Regions from separate parts of the Homo sapiens genome. Here region 2 is linked to region 1. A link means that fine-mapping ties the variant in region 1 to the expression of a gene that starts in the linked region. Tissue or cell type: whole blood. Region 1 holds a variant in brackets; the other region holds the start of a gene. All regions are shown on one strand. Distances are between the middles of the regions.

Region 1 (9,877 bases):
GTGGGGAGAAATGGCATTGTCTGATGCAGCTGTGTAAACAAGAGAAGCCCTGCAGAAGCTCTAAGCACTGCTGCCCCCTGGGCCAGCCACCAGGCCAGGCCAGAGCCCACACAAGCAGGCTGGGCCTAAGACTAGGGACCCGCTGGCTTTAACCTCTGCAAGGTGCTTATTGCAAACTAACCAAGCCCCATCTGGTGCCAGAAGGGGTGGAGCTATTGAGTCCTCTCCCCATAAACATAAAGCCAGGAGGGCAAGAGGAAGTGCTGGGTTACAAAGACCCAGCAAGCAGGCCAGACGACCCTCTCTAGACTACCTGTCCTTTGCTCTTCAAAACCAGCATTCCCTAATTCTGAACTGCTTATAAGATAGCAAAACAAGTCTGGCTAAACTACAGTCAAGAGCTTAGGATCTATGGAAGCCAAGAAGGCCCAGGGCTCCATGAATGGGCTGGGCAGGGGCACGAGGCCTTGCCTTTGTCTGAGAAGTCCTCACACCACAGCTGATCAGATGGAAACAATGGGGAAGCAGAGTTTCCCGGTGCCGTCTTTCCCCAGCCCAGATTCCACCAAGCGCTGGAAAGCAGAGCTGGGAATCTCCCAAGGCAGAGTCCTTCCAGCTTTCCTCCCCCTCAACTTCACACTCCCCTACCTGTGGCTCTGGAAGGAGTCACACTTGAACCTCAACCAAACTTCCCAATATCAGTTGGAAGTCAAAAAGATGAACCCTTTCTTTCTGGACTTTTAGCTACAAAGGGGAACTTCCTGTGCCAAGCCCTGGTTTCCTCATACCCCAACGAGTGCTGTGGGTTTCAACAGTCTTCTCTAAAAGGGTGCCCCAAGGTTATTGTGTGGAGTCTAGGGAAGCTCAGATCCTCAGGATGATCATTTGTGTGTTGGTCCAGTGAAAGCATTTCCCACCTGGCCCTCCAGAAACTGGGTATTTCATTGACCACAACAATCAGCTAGGATTTAAAATGAAAACAAAACCTTAGCAGTCTTTAGAATATACAGGTTATGAACTAGCTAAGCTGCTAATATATATACAGGCGGGCATAGGTTTCATCGGCTCTAACTGATCACATGCCTGAAGCTGTGAAATATATCCTGGAAGCTCTAAATAGTTTCTGAACTACTGTGCTCTAGAGTTCACTCTAGTTAGAGACTTGAAAAATGTTTTTGTTTAATCTTAAGCCATGTAATGTACATGGAAGCATAGGATTTCACCCTGAAGTTTTCGTAATTTGACAAAGAGATTTACCAGAGCTCGGTCAGCTATCTCAGAAACCTGCTTTGAGCAGCTGTCATGAAGAAACACGTTCAGTCTTTCAGGAGAAATGTTTCCCCACCACAGCTGCTGAATACCCTTCCAGGCTTGGAAAATCCCCTTCCAGCAGCACTTATTAAATTTCAAGCCCTTTCTGTTTTCCTGACTACAATTCTACCCATAAAAAATTTAAAAATCCTTCTTACAAATAAGTTGCATCAAAGCTCCCTGCAGCTACTGAGGGCCAGCCCTGCTCTGACTCCTTGAGACCACGGCTCTGGAAGGTGCCATGGTTTCCGGTTTGCACTAGGAGCCACATCTAGCCCCCTACTCCCTCTCAAATGCAGCAACCACCTCCATGGCCTCAGACCGCCGGAGTTTTCTGCTCGCCTTTCCACAGTTGTCAAACCCCACACACAGTCACTTGGTATATCTGACGTGGTTCTGAAAATCACAATGAAGGATTTTTGGCATAAAAACGTTTTAAAAAGCAATTGTCCCAAAATGCACGTGGGTTTGGGTCTGCAACTCCTCACACCCGCCTGTCCAGCCAGCCAGCGGCCACGGTCGACGTCATGGAGTCAAGTCCTTTTTTTTTTTTTGTCCCCTTTAAAACAACAAAGGAAAAAACAAATAACCAGAGATGACGATCGAGGCTCTACACACGTGCTGGGTTTCCGTAGGACATGCTGCTATGGAAACGCGGTGCAGCAGCCCCCCAGAGGCGACGCGGCGCGCATGCGAGGTCGAGCGATCCAGGCAGCTACTCGGGCTCCATGGCCTCCTCCGGCCGCAGTGGATGCATGCGTGCGGGGGAGCCGGGGGCGGGGGCCCAGCAACTTTCCACGCAGGGACTGCCTCTCACAAGAGCACTTCCTCCTCCCCCACGGGGGGCGGGTCGGTGCCCTGGAGGTTGTCTTCGCTGCCTTGCTTCCTGCTCACCGAACAGAAAACCAACATTAAGACTCTGAGAAATGCCAGCGAGGCCCTGAGCCAGCTGCTCCCACATCTGGGCCCCCTGCCCAAGTGGGCCGTCGCGCACCCCCTGGAACGTGATCTACGTAACCCAGTCTTTGAGATCCTCTCCCCTTTTCCTTGCTCACATAAATTTTTCAAAGGAGACTTTGCACGCAGCCCCTCTGTAAATGAAAGACCAGCATCATTTGCCAAAAATAGCAAGGACCCGTACAACAGTTCCAAAACTATGTAACACCAAAATTCACTGCACAAATCCCAAGTAGAAGGCACCCCCCACCCCACGGCGCCTGTCATACCAGGTTTTTAGGTACTTCGATCCCCCACTTAGGCTATGAGCCCTTACAGGGAAGGGACTGTGACGCTTGTCCTCAGTCACCAGATGTTGAGTTCCTTGTGTGTGGGGGTGATCAGAGCCTCCCCTGCCTGGCCTGGCACACAGCTGGCCCTCAAGAAAGGGCAGATGACAACTGCTCCAGGGATCCTCCCGCCTCAGCCCTCCTGCAGCCAGCCCTGAGGGAGGAGCACCTCAGACAGAAGAGGAGGCCCCTTCCCTCTTGGAAGTGGGAGGAGGAGAGCCCTTGTTTCCCTGAAGAGCCCAGGCTGGAGCCGCCGGTGTGACAGCGTGGATGGCGTGACAGGTGCGAGGGGAATCCCCGAGCCTATCCCCTCACCACCATCACACAGCTCCCCTGTTCTTAGGGAGGTCACTGGGCATGCCACATGGGTTACTGTCTGTCCTTCCCCCACAACAATCCGTGTCTCCTGTCCAGGAGGGAGACTGTCCTTACACAAGGGAAAGGAAGCGTGATGTCTGGCTTGCTATGTTTCTGATGGAGAATGTGGGTAAGGTCCCTGGGGAGGGGGGCGCTGTAACTAGACGTTAGGTCAGGCCCTCAGTCTCTGCCCTCGCAGTTGCCTGTTGGTAGGGGTTGGGTCTTACTGCAGACGGCAGGCAGGCCCCCAGTCCAAGACCCCCAGTGCCTGAATCAGCTCTGTGAGCTCCCATGACCAAGGCATCCTACCTGCTGGGGGCTGAGGGCAGGGGATCCCAGGTGAAGAAAGGAAGGGGCAGCATAGCCCTTTGGGGCCAGTCTCCATCTGCTGGTGTCTTGCAATTTTGATCTCATTGAAACGAAGGCCGGGCACAGTGGCTCATGCCTGTAATCCCAGTACTTTGGGAGGCTGAGGCAGGCAGATCACCCGAGGTCAGGAGTTCAAGACCAGCCTGGCCAACATGGTGAAACCCCCATCTCTACTAAAAAAATACAAAAATTAGCTGGGCATGGTGGCACATGTCTGTAAACCCAGCTACTCAGGAAGCTGAGGCAGGAGAATCGCTTGAGCCTAGGAGGCAGAGGTTGCAGTGAGCCGAGATCACACCACTACACTCCAACACTCCAACCTGGGCAACAGTGCAAGACCCTGTCTCAAAAAAAAAAAAGAAAGAAAGAAAGAAAGAAAGAAAATAGGAAAGAAACCAACAGCAGACTTGCTCAGAGACAGGAGGCAGCCCCGGTTTGGCAAACCCTAAAATGGAGATTGAGAGGAGGAAGGCCGAGGAAAGGCCAGCCCGCTGGGTTTCCACTCCATCATCCGTGAGGCTCACACCCAAGGCGGGGCTGCCCAGGCGTCTGTCTGGGCACAAGCTGGGGACTGTGTCTGCCTTCTGAGACTGCTGAAGACCGGTTCTGAAGGACTGCCATTTTCCCTGCTCTATGCTGGAGGGCAAGGTTTCTCTCAAAAGCATAAATAATTCCCAAACAGGTGTTCCTCCTAGATTACCATATAAGCCCTGACTCCCACGGGATGGGTGGCCAATCCATTTCTTTTTCTTTTCTTTTTTTTTTGAGACGGAGTCTCGCTCTGTCGCCCAGGCTGGAGTGCTGTGGCGCAATCTCGGCTCACTGCAAGCTCCGCCTCCCGGGTTCACGCCATTCTCCTGCCTCAGCCTCCCGAGTAGCTGGGACTACAGGCGCCCGCCACCGCGCCCGGCTAATTTTTTGTATTTTTAGTAGAGACGGGGTTTCACTGTGTTAGCCAGGATGGTCTCGATCTCCTGACCTCGTCATTCGCCTGCCTTGGCCTCCCAAAGCGCTGGGATTACAGGCGTGAGCCACCGCGCCCAGCCTTTTTTTTTGAGACAGATTTTTGCTCTTGTTGCCCAGGCTGGAGTGCAATGACGTGATCTCAGCTCACCGCAACCTCCACCTCCTGGGTTCAAGTGATTCTCCTGCCTCACCTCCCGAGTAGCTGGGACTACAAGTGTGCGCCACCATGCCCGGCTAATATTTGTATTTTTAGTAGAGACGGGGTTTCACCATATTGGCCAGGCTGGTCTCAAACTCCTGACCTCATGATCCACCTGCCTCGGCCTCCCAAAGTGCTGGGATTACAGGCGTGAGCCACTGCATCCAGCCTGCTAGTCAATCCATTTCATCTCGTAAGCCAACTCCTAACACTTTGTACACAAATGTTCATAGCATCAGTCTTCATTCGATAGCCAAAAGGTGGAGACAAGTCCATCCACAGAGGAATGGATGAACAAAGTGAGGTGCATCCAAACAATGGAATCTTATTTGGCCATGAAAAGGAATGAAGCACTAATACATGTAGAGCATGGATGAACCTTGAAAACATGATGCTGAGAGAAAGAAGCCAGACACAGAAGGCCACGTAGTGTATGACGCCATTTATACGAAACGTCCAGAATAGGCAAATCCATACCTATTCTGAGTGGTTACTGGGGTGGGGGAGTTGGATGGGGACAGCTAAGGAGTGTAGGGTGTCTTCTTGGGCTGATGAAAATGTCGTAAAGTTGA[C/T]GGTGGTAATGGCTGCAGAAGTCTGTATTAGAAACCACTGAATCATACACTTCCCGTGGGTGAATTACATGGTATGTGAATTGTACCTCAGTAAAGCTATGTTTAAGAAACAGAAGTGACTGCCTGGAGCTCCCACCAAGTCAGGTAGCCATGATGTGCTCAGTGGGAAGGGCAGTGGGGTCCCCACCCACCACAGCACCTGCAGCAGGGGTGCCCAGCAGGTTCTCCCAGTCTCATAAGGACACAAAGCCTCATCTGTCCTGGGAGGTTCTGGTCACCTGGGCTGGCTATGTGTATGAAGGAAGGGTGGCTGACAGCAAGAAGGTCTGCATCCACTCGGGTGAGGGAACTCTTACGTTACTTTGCAACAGGCAGGAAGGGGACTTATTTTCTAGGTCTAAACACATCAAAGAAAGAGAAGTGGAGGCTGGAGAGCCCCTAGCGAAGAGCCACACAGTGCAGCATGCCTGACCTATGTGCTGACCATGCGGACTCGGGGGGGCACCCATGGGCCCTGTGACAGAGCTTCAACACCATTGACGTGCACTGAGAAGACATGGGTGCCACACAGGATCTTCAGACCTGGGTGCATTCTCAGGCATTCCAGCTGGAGCGCCATGCACCCGCAGCCCCAGCCCACATGCATGACCCACCATTGGGTCCAAGCCCCCGAGGCCCCTCATTCTAATACTGGGTCTGGAGGCCCGCGGTGAGCCGGGCCACAGCAGCCCAGGCTGGAAGGAGCATCTGCCCGGGTGGGGATGCCCCCGTGCTCTGCAGCTGCCCACCCGCCCCCCTCAGGCCCCAGCAGAGGCTACGGCACAGGCAGGCGGGCGTTACCTTGAGCTCAGACAGGGACTCACATTCCCTGGTTGGTTTTTTGCTGGAATCACCAGAGGGAGGGAAAAGGGAAGTGAGAAGGGACCCTTGGGATCCACGGGATGCCCGTTCCCCCACCCTGAGACACTCAGACCCCAAACACCAGCTTCATAGAGCTGGAGCCAGGGTGGCGTTGACAGCAGATGAGTGGACACCTCTCTGCATGGACACACAGGGTCCTGAGTGAGACCACACTGCTCGCCCAGCACAGAGCCTCAAACCTCCCCATCAGGCACTCACGGTCCCGGGCCACAAAAGTGCTTTTCTTCTGACTGACCAAGAGCCCCCCAGCTACAGTGCAAGTTCCCGAGAAAGGTAAACTTCAGGTGGATTAGCTGTCAGCAAAAGGAGGTGGGCTGAGCCCAGGTTGGGGTGCTGACTGTCCCAGTGCACCAGGTGGGTTTCATCTGAGTCTCTCCAGATGGCACCACTTCAGGGAGGACCTGTGCAGAGTGGTCTGGGCAGGGCTGCCCCAAGCCTAGCCTCCAGCCACCACTCCCCCACCCAAGAAGGCAGGCGGCCACTCACGTGAGCAAGTTTCCAGGCGCTGACAGTGAGCGTTCCTCCCGCCGGCTGCCCTCGAATGGGTTCCCAAAGGAGCGTTTACGTATCATGGTCTTCACCAGGATCTGAAGAGGGAGAAAAGAGGAGGTGGCAGGCAACTGCTTGGCCATGTGGGGGCGATTCTGGGCAACATCCTCCCTCTTCCTTCTCCCCAGCCCCTGCCAGCTCCCAGGGCTGGTGACCGATGGCAGACTTTGAGAGAAACTGGGCAGCACCACCCCGCAACCAACCCCCGCCGAAAGAATCCTCTGGGAAAAGGTGCTGTCCTGCACCACACCCTCAGCCACTGCTCAGCGTCTCTCCCAGGCCTCCCTGCTTTCCACCTCCCTCCCTCCCATCCCTTCCAAAACCCAGATCTGGTCCCCTCACTCCCTGACTCAGCATCCCCACCCAGAGGGGTCTGGAACTTGGCCTGTGGTCAGCCAGAGAGCCCCGGAAAGTTCTGGAGCAAGGACGTGAACCAGTCATTCTTGGTGATGCTCTTGGCTGCCATTTCCCATGAAGGGAATGGCCTGAGGGCCCCATAAGAGTCACTGGGCCCCTCACCCCACCCCAACCAGGGCACGGTGCCCCTTCAAGCTGTTTTGGGAATTCACAGAGCTTCTGACTTTTTAAGCATTTGCTGCTAACAAGAAAAATAAGTGTTTAAGAAACACTGATTTACCAAAAGATGCAAACACCCAAATGCCCATCAACTGAAGAAGATAAACTCAAAGCGGTCTGTCTGTGCAATGGAACATGATTCAGCCATAAGGAGTGAAGCACTGATCCATGCTACAACACAAACGGACCCTGAAAACCTTCTCCTACGTCAAAGTAGCCAGGCCCGAAAGGCCTCAGAGTGTAGGATTCCACCAGAATACACAAATCTATAGACACAGAGGGCAGGTGAGTGGGTGCCAGGGCTGGGGGGAGGTGAATGGAGAGTCATTGCTGATGGGCGGGGGTGTGAAGTAATGAAAATGTTCAGAACTATTGAGGAGATAATTGCATGTCACTGTGAATGTCCCAAATGTCACTGAATTGTTCACTTTAATTTTATGTTATGTGAATTCTACCTCAATTTAAAAGAAGGAGCGGGGGGGGGGAGGCGGGCGTGGTGGCTCATGCTTGTAATACCAGCACTTTGGGAGGCTGAGGCAGGTGGATCACCTGAGGTCAGGAGTTTGAGACCAGCCTGGCCAGCATGGAGAAACCGCGTCTCCACTAAAAATACAAAAATTAGCTGGGCATGGTGGTAGGCACCTGTCATCCCAGCTACATGGGAGGCTGAGGCAGAAGAATTGCTTGAACCTGGGAGGCGGAGGTTGCAGTGAGCCAAGACCACACCACTGCACTCCAGCCTGGGCAACGAGAGCAAAACTCCATCTCAAAAAAAAAAGAGAGAGAGAATGAAGGCCTCTTCCCCTACTGAGGTTCTTACAGTCACTGGGACATGCCAGCCCCTCTTTCCTCTGTGTCTGAGCAGATGTCACTCCCCAGGTGAGCCCACCCTGCCGCCTCCCCTGTGGCCTTGTCAACCCAGAGCAGGAGCTCCTCCTCTGTGAAGCCCCCAGCCCTTGCATCTCTCTGCACTGGCCTCTGATCACACAGGAGGCTGATTCTTCCCAGGTCCATCTTTCTTATAAGGCCAGGAGCCCCTCCCCCAGCCCCCCAGCCCCCTACCCCTGAGAGCAGGCACTGGGCTAAGCTCATCTTTGACACCTATGCCTGGCACACACTGGCTGCTCCGTGTTTGCTAAATGATGAACACATGCAGGGGGCCTGGACCTTGCCATCTTGTCCCAAGTCAGACCACTTCCCAGTATCTACCCGCCCATCCCTGCTCCAGCTGCCCTGGTTCAAACCCTGATTCAAACCCATGCTCTTGGAGTAAACATGTAAAACCTCGCCACACCCTCCCTCCACCTTCCTTGCCCTGCTTCAGTGGCCCCACCCAGTGTGTTAGCCCGTCCGCCCTCTCTCGGCGGAGTTAACACCCTACCATCCTCTCGGTGTCTATCCACTTCTTCCCAGTGGGTCCAAGTGTGCCTCCATTAGGGGCATGTCCTGTGGTCCCTCTACTGCACTGTACATACATTTGTTGGTTTGACCAGCATCTGCCTCTCAAGCATGGCAGAGGCCATGGGGGTTTTGTTCATCACTCCACCCAGCCCCTGCTCCCAGCACAGGCCTGAGAAACCACTCGGTGTTCAACAAGTGTTTCCCGTATAATGAATGCCTACTCCAGACCTCCAGGGCCAGACGCTTTCTCCCAAGAACCCGTCCCAGAGACCCAGGAAGGAAAGGGAGGGCAACTGATTCAGGACTGAGAACCTCCTGAGCCTGGAACACAGTAACCCACGGTGGGTGCAGAGTCCGACGCCAGCTGTCTCCTCGTCTACAGGCACAAGGGGTGGTTGAGGAAGGGTGAGTGGGTGTGGGTGGGTCTTCAACAGTGAAGGTCCTGCACAGCCCCAGGTGGGGAAAGAGTGGAGGAAGATGTGGATGGATGCCCCAGCCAGGGCTCAGCTTTGGGAGGAGGAGAGAGGAAGTGTGTGGGGAAGCAGAGAAGAGAGGTGCAAAGCTGGAGGAGCAGGAGCAGCATCTGGGCTCCTACAGGGGCAATCCTTCACAGCTGGACCTTCTGTGCCTTTCCAGCCAGTCTCAAGGGTCCCTCCCAGAGCCCAGGGGCCCGCCGGCCCACTGGGACTAGTGCTGGCCAACTGCAACCAGGCCTTTCGAGGTGGCTGTGGTGGGACAACCTGCTGGTCTCTGTCCCCAAGCCTGCTGCCTGGAACCTGGATCCCTGGGACTCTTGGTCTCTCTCTTGGAGCTAACTGCCCTCCTGGACAGGGACTTGGTCAGTGGCGATTCCCAGAGCCTCCAAGGTTAGGCCTGAGGACTCTACATTCTGGCTCCTTCTTCCTGGGTCAGGATCCAAATTCAAGGCCATAAAAGGGGACCTACTTGCTCCTAAGCAATTCTCACTCTCAGGAGATGGGCAGAACTTTCTGAGTGTGTGCGTGGAAGTCCCTGCCCCTACCCCTGGTGGCTGCCCACACAGCAGACGTGAGATATGCTACGCCATCCACCCTGGAGCCTAAAATTCCAGCTAGGCGGGAATCCTGGCTTAGAGACCTGGGCTCCGGCTCCCAACCCTTGCCCCTGCCTGGAACTTCTCCTAGTTCCTCTCCCCTGATGAGCTCTGAAAGCAGGAATTCCAGAAGGATAATCTTCCCCTTCCTATGGTAACATGGAACCTGGCTCAGAAGATGCAGGGGTCACCTGGCCTGATACATGACCAAGGCCCAGAGGCCAGCAGCTGTGGATTAGGGGTGGCCCCCGGACATCTGACTCCCGGGCACCCGCCTGTGTCCGGCCTGTCCTGGCCA
Region 2 (9,877 bases), 52 kb after region 1:
CTTGAACTCCTGACCTTAAGTGATCCACCCGCCTTGGCCTCCCAAAGTGCTGGGATTACAGGCGTAAGCCACTGTGCCTGGCCAGCAATGGGTTTAAATGGGGAGCCACGATTCTTGCAAGGGGTAGGTAAGGGTGCATGAAGGGAATCCCGAAAACCTTGGGTTGGGAAACTGGTTCCTGAGTGATTTCAAGAAACCTTTCTTCCATCACCTGCTCCCTCCAAACAGAGTGACAAAAAAATGTCTTATGCCAAGAAGTTCATTAACTGAGGGGCTACAGAGACACGGGAATGGACAAAGTAGCCTTAAGACGCCTTTATGGTGGAAACAACCCAAATGTCTATCAATGGATGAATGTATACACAAAATGCGGTCCATCCACACAATGGAATAGTACTGGGCCGCAGAAGCGAATGAAGCACTGACAGCCACTATGGCATGGATCAGTCTTGAAAGCATGATGCTGAATGAAAGAAGCCAGACACAAAAGTCATATATTACATGATTCTATTTATATGAAATGTCCAAAACAAGCAAATCCAGAGAGACAGAAAGTAGGCTGGTGGTTGCCAGGGGCTGCAGGGAGGGGCACTGGGAAGAGAGAGTGACAGTTTAATGGGTACAAGGTTTCCTCTGGGGGTGATGAAAATGCTCTGGAACTAGACAGAAGTAGTGGTTGTACAACATTATAAATGTACTAAATGCCACTGAATTGTTCACTTTAAAATGGTTAAGTTTGGGCTGGGCATGGTGGCTCACGCCTGTAATCCCAGCACTTTGGGAGGCCGAGGCGGGCAGATCATGAGGTCAAGAGATCAAGACCATCCTAGCCAACATGGTGAAACCCCGTCTCTACTAAAAATACAAAAATTAGCTGGGCATGGTGTCACATGCCTGTAATCCCAGCTCCTTGGGAGGCTGAGGCAGGAGAATCGCTTGAACCCAGGAGCTGGAGGTTGCAGTGAGCCGAGATCACGCCACTGCACTCCAGCCTGGCGACAGAGTGAGACTCTGTCTCAAAAAAATAAATAAATAAAATAAAACAAAATAAAATAAAATGGTTAAGCTTATATTATGTGAATTTCACCTCAATTTTTTTTTTCTTTTGAGAAGGAGTCTTGCTTTGTCGCCCAGGCAGGAGTGCAGTGGCACGATCTTGGCTCAATGCAACATCCACCTCCCGGGTTCAAGCGATTCTCCTGTCTCAGTCTCCCGAGTGGCTGGGATTACAGGCACAAGCTACCAGGCTCAACTAATTTTTATTGTATTTTTAGTGGGGACGGGGTTTCGCTATGTTGGCCAGCCTGATCTTGAACTCCTAACCTCAAGTGATCTACCCGCCTCGGCCTCCCAAAGTGCTGGGATTACAGGCGTGAGCCACCGTGCCCAGCCCTCCTCAATTTTTTTAAAAAGAAGCCCTTACGAATCTCTACTAACAGGTCAGTAAGGCAACAAGCACAGCCTGAAAGAAGATCGGTTTCAAAAGGGAAATGCAATTTCCTCAACTGTTAGGAAAGAGACACAGACGCAAGGCTGAGGCTGCAGCAGCACCATGCAGCCAGCCGGCCTGAACCCCATATCCAGGTTCTCTAACCCCATCCAAAGAGAAGAAGTGAGTGGGAAAGCAAAACATGGAAGAAAAATAGCAGTAGGCCAGACACAATGGCTATAATCCAATCCCAGCACTTTGGGAGCCTGAGCCTAGAGGATCACTTGAGTCCAGGAGTTCGAGACCAGCCTGGGCAAAATAGTAAGACCCTGTTTCTATAAAGAAATTAAAATTTTAGCCAGGCATGGTGGCATGCACCTGTAGTCTCATCTGCTCTGGTGGTTGAGGTAGAAGGATCACTTGAGCCCAGGAGTTGGAGACTACAGTGAGCTATGATAGCACCACTGCCCTCCACCCTGAGCAACAAAGTGGGATCCCATCTCAAAAGAAAAAAAAAAAGAAAAAAAAAGCTGGGCGCCGTGGCTCACGCCTGTAATCCCAGCACTTTGGGAGGCCGAGGCAGGCGGATCATCTGAGGTCAGGAGTTCGAGACCAGCCTGGCTAACATGGTGAAACCCCGTTTCTACTAAAAATACAAAAAATTAGCCAGGCCTGGTGGTGTGTACCTGTAATCCCAGCCACTCGGGAGGCTGAGGCAGGAGAATCGCTTGAACCTGGGAGGCAGAGGTTGCAGTGAACCGAGATCACACCACTGTACTCTGGCTCGGGCAACAAGAGGGAAACTCCATCTCAAAGAAAAGAAAAGAAACAAAGCAAAGCAATAAGCAATATAAGACCCTCTGATTTAAAGGAAAATCTGAAATAGCATTTGCCCCAAATCCCCAGGATCAGGAAATGAAATGTTTCCCATAACCACCAGAAGAAAGTATGCTGGGGCGGGAAGAAGATCACAGGTGACCCTGAGCAAATTACTCAGCCTCTCTGAGCCCTTCATATAAAGAGGCTTCCATAAAATGAGTTGATAGAATAATGGTGATTCTGTGGCCCATGTTAAAATTTGAGCCAAAATGCCTTGAAAACAGGCTTGGCCTGCCCCACTTGGCCTGGTCCTCTCCCCTGAGAGTGGTGTCTGGCCACTCATCTTCCATCTAGGATGAGGTTCTCAAAGAGGAAACCCCCGGCTACTGCACAAAGTTCCCTGCTAGGTCACCCCACCCTATCCCCTTCCCCTCCTACTCCCATCCCATCTCCCATTTCTGGCCCATCCTTCAAGGCTCTGCACAAATGACACCTCCTTCAGGGAGCCTCCCAGATTCACACCAGTCTGAGGAGATTTCTCCAGAACCCTCAGTGCCCTGTGCTCCTTCGATCACAACAGCACTCATTCCTTGTGGTGTTTCTCAACAGTGGCACTGCTGGCATTTGGGGGAGGGTGATTTTTTTTTGTTTTTTGTTTGTTTTTTGAGAGGAAGTCTCCTTCTTGTGCCCCACGCTGGAGTGCAATGGCACGATCTCAGCACACTGCAACCTCCGCCTTCCAGGTTCAAGTGATTCTCCTGCCTCAGCCTCCCAAGTAGCTGGGATTACAGGTGTGTGCCACCACGCCCAGCTAATTTTTGTATTTTTAGTAGAGATGGGGTTTCACCATGTTGGCCAGGCTGGTCTCGAACTCCTGACCTCAGGTGATCCTCCTGCCTCGGCCTCCCAAAGTGCTGGGATTACAAGCGTGAGCCACCACGCCCAGCCAGGGGAGGGTGATTCTTTATGTCGTGGCCCTGGCCTGCCTACAGGACACTTTAGTAGGCATCCCTGACTCCCGCCCACTAAAAGCCAGGAGTGCTTAGCATCATTTTGACAACCAAAAGTCGCCCCCACACTTTCCCAAATCCCTGCCAGGAGGGTGGGACCACCCCCGGATGAGAACTAGTGCATTGTTATTAGTGACTATATTTAGCTACCAGCCCACTAGCCATATCTAAGGATGGGCAGTACTACAGACCCTGCATAGAGCTGCATCGGCAAACACTGATGTAGTGAATAAACAAAACAAAACAAACTCCTGGGCTCCTCAAGAAGCTCAGGGCAGCCTTGCCAGGGTCTCTGCTCTTGAACAGGTGCACAAAGGTTCTAAGGCCTGACATGCCTGCACTGGCTGTGTGACCCTGAGCAAGTTACTTAACTTCTCTGAGCCCTTCTATAAAATGGGGCTAAATCCTAGCAACACTGCAGGATTTCTGTAAACCTCAGTCTCCTAATCTCTACTATGGGGTTAAAATTCCCTACGTTGTAGGATTTGGTAGGCATTAAATGAGATAATGCATGTAACACATAGCACAGAATCTGGCAGGCAGCAAGAACTCAATAGATGTTAGTTTTTAATACTGTTATTATTATTATTGTCCAGGGCCAGGTGGCAGCTCATGCCTGTAATCCTAGCACTTGGGAGACTGACGTAGGCGGATCACTTGAGGTAAGGAGTTCAAGACCAGCCTGACCAACATGGTGAAACCCCTTCTCTACTAAAAATACAGAAATTAGCCAGGCATGGTGGTGGGCGCCTGTAATCCCAGCTACTGGAGAGGCTGAGGCATGAGAATCGCTTGAACCCGGGAGGCGGAGGTTGCAGTGAGCCAAGATTGTGCCACTGCACTCCACCCTGGGCAACAGAGACTCCGTCTCAAAATAAATAAATAAGTATTCTTATTATTATCCAAGTTAGGGGCTCATCAAATGATGGCTATTACTCTTCATTACAAAAATATGTTTTGCGTCCTCATCACCAATGCCTGCTTCCTCCATAGGAAGGGTGTGTGTCACCAATGCCTGCTTCCTCCATAGGAAGGGTGTATGAGCAGCAGTCTGGAAGGGGTATGTGGGGCTTGCCCTAAAGCTGCATTTGCATGGCATGCACACTATTTATTCTGAAACTGCATGTTTTTGTGGGGTGATTAGGGAAGAGGGTGGCTAACTCCCCCAAAGCCCTCCCCTTGTTGCAGCCCCCGCCTCCTCCAAGGAACAAAGGAGCTTATGGGGACATAAAGCCATCCTCTTCTCTCTCCTCTGGGGGCAGAGCTAGGGGAGGGGGAGTGGTAAATGGCAGCACAGCTCTAGGGCACCTGAAGTTTCTATCCCCTGCGTGGAGACTCCAAACACCAGGCTGGGGAAGGTAAAAGTAGCCTGTAGGGAGATGGACGCTGCAGGTCCCATCCGGAGGCCAGGTATCCCTCTCTTGCTGATAGCACTGAGACGCCCTCCCCAAAGCTCAGCCTTCTCGGGGAGATCGGAGGGGCTGAGCTGCATCCTGTCCAGCACTAAGTGAGAGTGGCCAGGAGGGCAGGCTGGCAGAGCTGTGAAAGCACCCACTTCCCCAGCTAGGCAGTGCAGGGGCTGGGGGAAAGCCAGGAAAAGCTCAAGGCTGGGTCGGGTGGCACCCCAGGCACAGAGCCCCAATGCTGAGAGGGGCTGGGTCCAGTGTCCCTGAGAGTCAGGCGGACGCCTCTCCGCATTCACAGCATACTGCAACCCCGAGGTGAATTTAGGTCAGAAGGACCAAGCCTGTGAGGCTCCGGCTGAGAGAAGAGGTGCGGTGGGGGTGGTCAAAGGGCAGACCGAAGACAGCCAAAGGTCCCCTAGGTCCCCACAACTGCTGGCCTAGGGTCCTGCCACCTGGTGTCCAAGCCACCAGGGCCTGGGTTTGCCCCGAGACAGGCAGGCTGCGGGGTGGGGGTGCTCCAAGTCCGCTGGTCCTCTCTTCCCCGGAACGCTCCAGATTTCCCCACCTGTCAAACGCGAGGGGCTGGGCCTAGGCCGCCTCCACGAACCCTGACGGACCCGGCCCCCGGTGACCCCGGTTCCAAACTCCAGGACCGCCCCTGCCACCCGGACAGGGCGCGGCCCAGCCGAGGAGGCCATCCCGAGGCCCAGGGCGCCCAGAGGACGCGGGGGAAGGGCTGTCGGGGACCGTGTCCCTCCACGTGGCGGGGCGTGGGGAGGCGCACGTGGGGTCCCTCCGTGTTGGGAGCCCCAGGCCAGCCTCCGGGCTTTGTGTGCCATGCCGGCGGCGGTCCCCCGCCTCGAGAGGGAAACGGAGCGGGCGCCCGGGGCCGCGGCGGCTGCGTCCCTTGCCCCGGGCCCGGCTACCGCCAGCTCACCTGGGCTCCGCGCCGCCGCCGCCTCCCGCGCTCTGCGCCCCCAGCTCGGCTCGGCTCGGCTCAGCTTGCTCTGCGCGGCCGCGCGCTCCTCTCCTCCGCCCGGGCGGCGGGCGCGCGGGGGGCGGGGGCGGGAGGAGCCGCCCGGCTCGGCTTGGGCGCGTCGCCGCCCCGGGCAGCGCGGGGATTGGCCACGGCGGCGGGAAACCCGAAAGCGGAACCGCCCGCGCCCGCCGCGCACCGCCCCCTGCGCGCCCCCGCCGGCTCGGCCCTGCGCCGGGGAGGGGTGGGGAGGCGGGAGCCTGCAAAGACGAAAGTAGCGAAGAGGCGAAGGGCAAGGAGCAGAAAGGGAGGAGGCGAAGAACGGGGGAAGAGAGGCCCGGCCGGGAGGATCGGAGGCGGCTGGGAGGAGAGCCTGGAGGGGCGCGGAGCGCAGGAGGTGGCGCCGCAACTTTGTACCCGCTCGCCCGCGGCGCGCACCTGCCCAGGTTCTTCCCGCGGCGCCCTCGGGCGGGCCGCGCCGGCAGCGCTTGCTTTGTTTAGCCAAATGCCGGGGCTGCAGGGCGCCTCCGGGCTGACCCTGGGAAAGTTCCCCCAAGCCGGCAAGAACACCCGGGGCCCCTCCTGTGGCGACCCGGCTGCTGCCCCTGCGCTAGGCGCCGGGCGGTGGATGCGGCCTGGACTTTGGGCCACCACCGACTCGGGGGAGCCCCCTTCCGCAGCTGCCTGCCGACTGACCACTTGCTCAGGGCCGGCCCTAAAGGCTGGGGGAAGGCGTTCCTCTCCCATCCCCAGCCCACCTGGATGCACCATTGAAGTTCATTCTGGCTTTTCCAGATGGCTACTTAGATGCTTTTTGTGAAATACAGCATATTCTTCCCATTCTCCCCTTTTTGGCACTTACTTTGCTGGAGCCTTAAGTGTGCGTTGGATCCCCCAGCTGGATAACAGCACTGTGCGGGGAAGAGGAGAAACGAAGACCTGGAGGGCTCCCTGAACCGTCCTACGGGGTCGAGCGACCCAGGGGATGTCTCACTGACCCTGCCAAACAGCCAAAAGGGAATCGAGTTGACAGGAGAGTCAACCTCCAAGTTAATAAAAGGTTCAAAGCCCTCTAGTTAACTGGGTGGATTTCCAGCCCGTTCCGATGTGCTTCTCTTGTATTTCTAGGCCGTAGGGACACTCACATGCAACGAGCCAATGAGAGCTCCACCCCGACTCCCTTTTTTTTTTTTTTTTTTTTCTTTTCTGAAACGGAGTCTCGCTCTGTCGCCCACGCTGGAGTGCAGTGACGCGATCTCGGATCACTGCAACCTCTGCCTCCCAGGTTCAAGCAGTTCTCTGCCTCAGTCTCCCGAGTAGCTGGGATTACAGGCGCCGGCCACCATACTTGGCTAATTTTTGTATTTTTCGTAGAGATGGGGTTTCACCATGTTGTCCAGGCTAATCTTGAATTCCTGACCTCGTGATCCACCCGCCTTGGCCTCCGAAAGTGCTGGGATTACAGGTGTGAGTCACCGCGCCCGGCCCACTCCCATTTTTTTTTCTTTGTTTTTTTTGTTTGTTTGTTTGTTTGTTTGTTTGTTTGTTTTGAGACAGGGTCTCTCTGTGTTGCCCAGGCTGGAGTGCAGTAGCACGATCACGGCTCGCTGCACCCTCGACCTCCCCAGGCTCAGGTGATCCTCCAGCCTCAGCCTCCTGAGTAGCTGGGACTACAGGCACACACCACCACACCTGGCTAATTTTTTCTATTTTTTGTAGAGACAGAGTTCTCCCTATGTTGCCCAGGCTGGTCTCAAACTCCTGGGCTCAAGTGATCCTCCTGCCTCTGCCTCCCAAAGTGCTGGGATTATAGGCATGAGCCAACATGCTCGGCCATCCACCTCTTCTGATGTTACTCAACGTGCATGCATTTGCTGGAAATGGCAAAAACCTGAGGCCGGGCATGGTGGCTCACGCCTATGATCCCAGCACTTTGGGAGGCCCGGGCGGAGAGATCACTTGAGGCCAGAAGTTCGAGACTAGCCTGGCCAGCATGGTGAAACCCCATCTCTATCAAAAATACAAAAATTAGCCCGGTGTGGTGGCGGTGCCCGTAATCCCAGCTACTCAGGAGGCTGAAGCACGAGAACCACTTGAACCGGGAGGCAGAGAGATCGCACCACTACCCTCCAGCCTGGACGACAGACCAAGACTGTTTCAAAAAAAAAAAAAAAAGTCTGGGCACAGTGGCTCACGCCTGTAATCCCAGCACTTTGGGAGGCCAAGGTGGGCAGATCACGAAGTCAGGAGTTCAAGTCCAGCCTGACCAGCATGGTGAAACCCCGTCTCTACTTAAAAAAAAAATGCAAAAATTAGCCAGGCATGGTGGCGCGCGCCTGTAATCCCAACTACTCAGGAGGCTGAGGCAGGAGAATCGCTTGAAACCCGGGAGGCAGAGGTTGCAGTGAGCCGAGATCATGCCACTGCACTCCAGCCTGGGTGACAGAGCAAGACTCCATCTCAAAAACAAAACAAAACAAAACAAAAACACAAAAAAAAAACCACCTGGGAACAACTTCCTATATGTTCATCAAAGGAATGGATAAATGAAACTCATTATAGTTGTTTGATGGAATACCATCTAATAGATAAAAGGGGTGCACTGGATCTGTACTGACATAAGGAAATCCCAAAAACATAATGTTGAGTAAAACAGCAAGTTGCAGAATACAACATGATGTACAATTTGTGTGTACCTTAAAATCCCATGCAGTAGATACTGTTCATGGACACATGCTTACATACAAGATTTTTAAAGTCAAAGAGAAGAATATACATTAAATTCATGACAGTGTGCCACAAAGAAGGAAAAAAGCACAGAACGGGACAGGGAGCATAAGGAATGTTGTAAAGTTTTATTCCTTTTAGTACTTATAAATGGCTGTGAGGCAAATGGCAAACTGTTAGCAATAGTCAATTCTGAATGGGGGATGCATAGTCCCGTATTTTTCTATATTCTCATATTTCCCCCCCCCCCCCCAAAAAAAATATGTATCAGGCCTGGTGGAGATTATCTGGGGCACTTTAAGGCAGGGTCAGCAAACTTTGTAAAGGGCCAGATAGTAAATATTTTAGGCTTTGCAAGCCATAGGCTCTGTAATGCAGCTACTCAACCCTGCCATCCTAGCAGCCACAGGAAATAGTAAATGAATGCATGCGGCAGTGTTCCAATAAAACTTTATTTACAGACACTGAAAACTGAATTTCATATGATTTTCATAAGTCACAAAATATTACTGTTTTGGTTTTTATTTAACCATTGAAAAATGTGAAAGGCCAGGTGTGGTGGCTTACACCTACACGCGTGATTACAATCTTAGCACTCTGGGAGGCCGAGGGGGCAGGATCACTTGAGCCTAGAAGTTTGAGACCAGCCTGGACAACATGGCAAGACCCATCTTGACAAAAAGAAAAAAGAAAAACGTAAAAACCATTCTTAGCAGGCCATAAAAAACAGGTGGCATGACAGATTTAGCTTATGGGCAATAAATAGTTTGGCAACCCTGCTTTACTAAGGTAACCAAAATAGATTTGGGTGTCCTTTCCTGTTACTGGATGTCTTTTCCTGGTACTTGTTAAACAATTCTGTATGTTTACATCATGTTACTAAATTGCCTGTGTTTTATTAGAACACTGTAGCTCACACAGGCAGAAACTTAGATATACACACAGCTGTGTAAACTTAAAAGCCAATTAAGTAAGAAAGGTTGGGAAGTGCCCCTACAAATCCAAACCCTAGCTCAAGAGTTGCTTTTCCTGATAGTTTCCTGAAATGCTGTGAGCCAGGCCCTCCCTGCCCGCTCCTCTCTCTGATGTCTTAAAGCAAGGACTGTACCATTTATTTGATGCTCAGCCACCTCCCTTCCTTCTTTATTCCTTCCTTTTTCACTCTGTGTTTTGACTTGCCAATAGACCTATATCTTCCTGGCATCTAGGCAGGTACCACATCTGAAACCTTTGTATACTCTCCGCATTGTGGGTGACAGCAATGACCCTGAAGTCAGATAGATTTTGTTCACATCCCAGTTTCACTAGTTACCAGCTCTGTGGCCTTGGGCAAATGACTTGATCTCTCCCAATTTGGTTTCGTCAGCTGTCAAATGGGGATAATAATAGTATCTAGCTCACAGGTTTCCCATGAGGTTTAAATCTAACGATGTATGTATGTAAAGATACTAGCTCTGTGCTTGGTACATAAGTCTTCAATGATGCTAACTAATTAAAATTAGCACAAAGC

The links.
Region 2: CAMKK2 starts here. The variant in region 1 is fine-mapped to the expression of CAMKK2 in whole blood (INTERVAL, PIP above 0.99).

Annotation. Positions count from the first base shown.
Region 1 is chr12:121,238,673-121,248,549 of GRCh38, forward strand. It overlaps CAMKK2 (calcium/calmodulin dependent protein kinase kinase 2), which reads right to left. Exons shown (of 17, transcript NM_001270485.2): 15 at 6,468-6,568; 16 at 5,901-5,943; 17 at 1-2,197. The coding sequence ends at 2,027. Among named protein-coding and RNA genes, the nearest start is that of P2RX4, 33 kb to the left of the region's middle. RefSeq lists silencers at 2,094-2,173, 7,112-7,325. The variant C/T (reference allele first, on the strand shown) is at 5,061.
Region 2 is chr12:121,291,037-121,300,913 of GRCh38, forward strand. It overlaps CAMKK2 (calcium/calmodulin dependent protein kinase kinase 2), which reads right to left and starts at 5,673. Exons shown (of 17, transcript NM_001270485.2): 1 at 5,602-5,673. RefSeq lists a silencer at 5,209-6,358.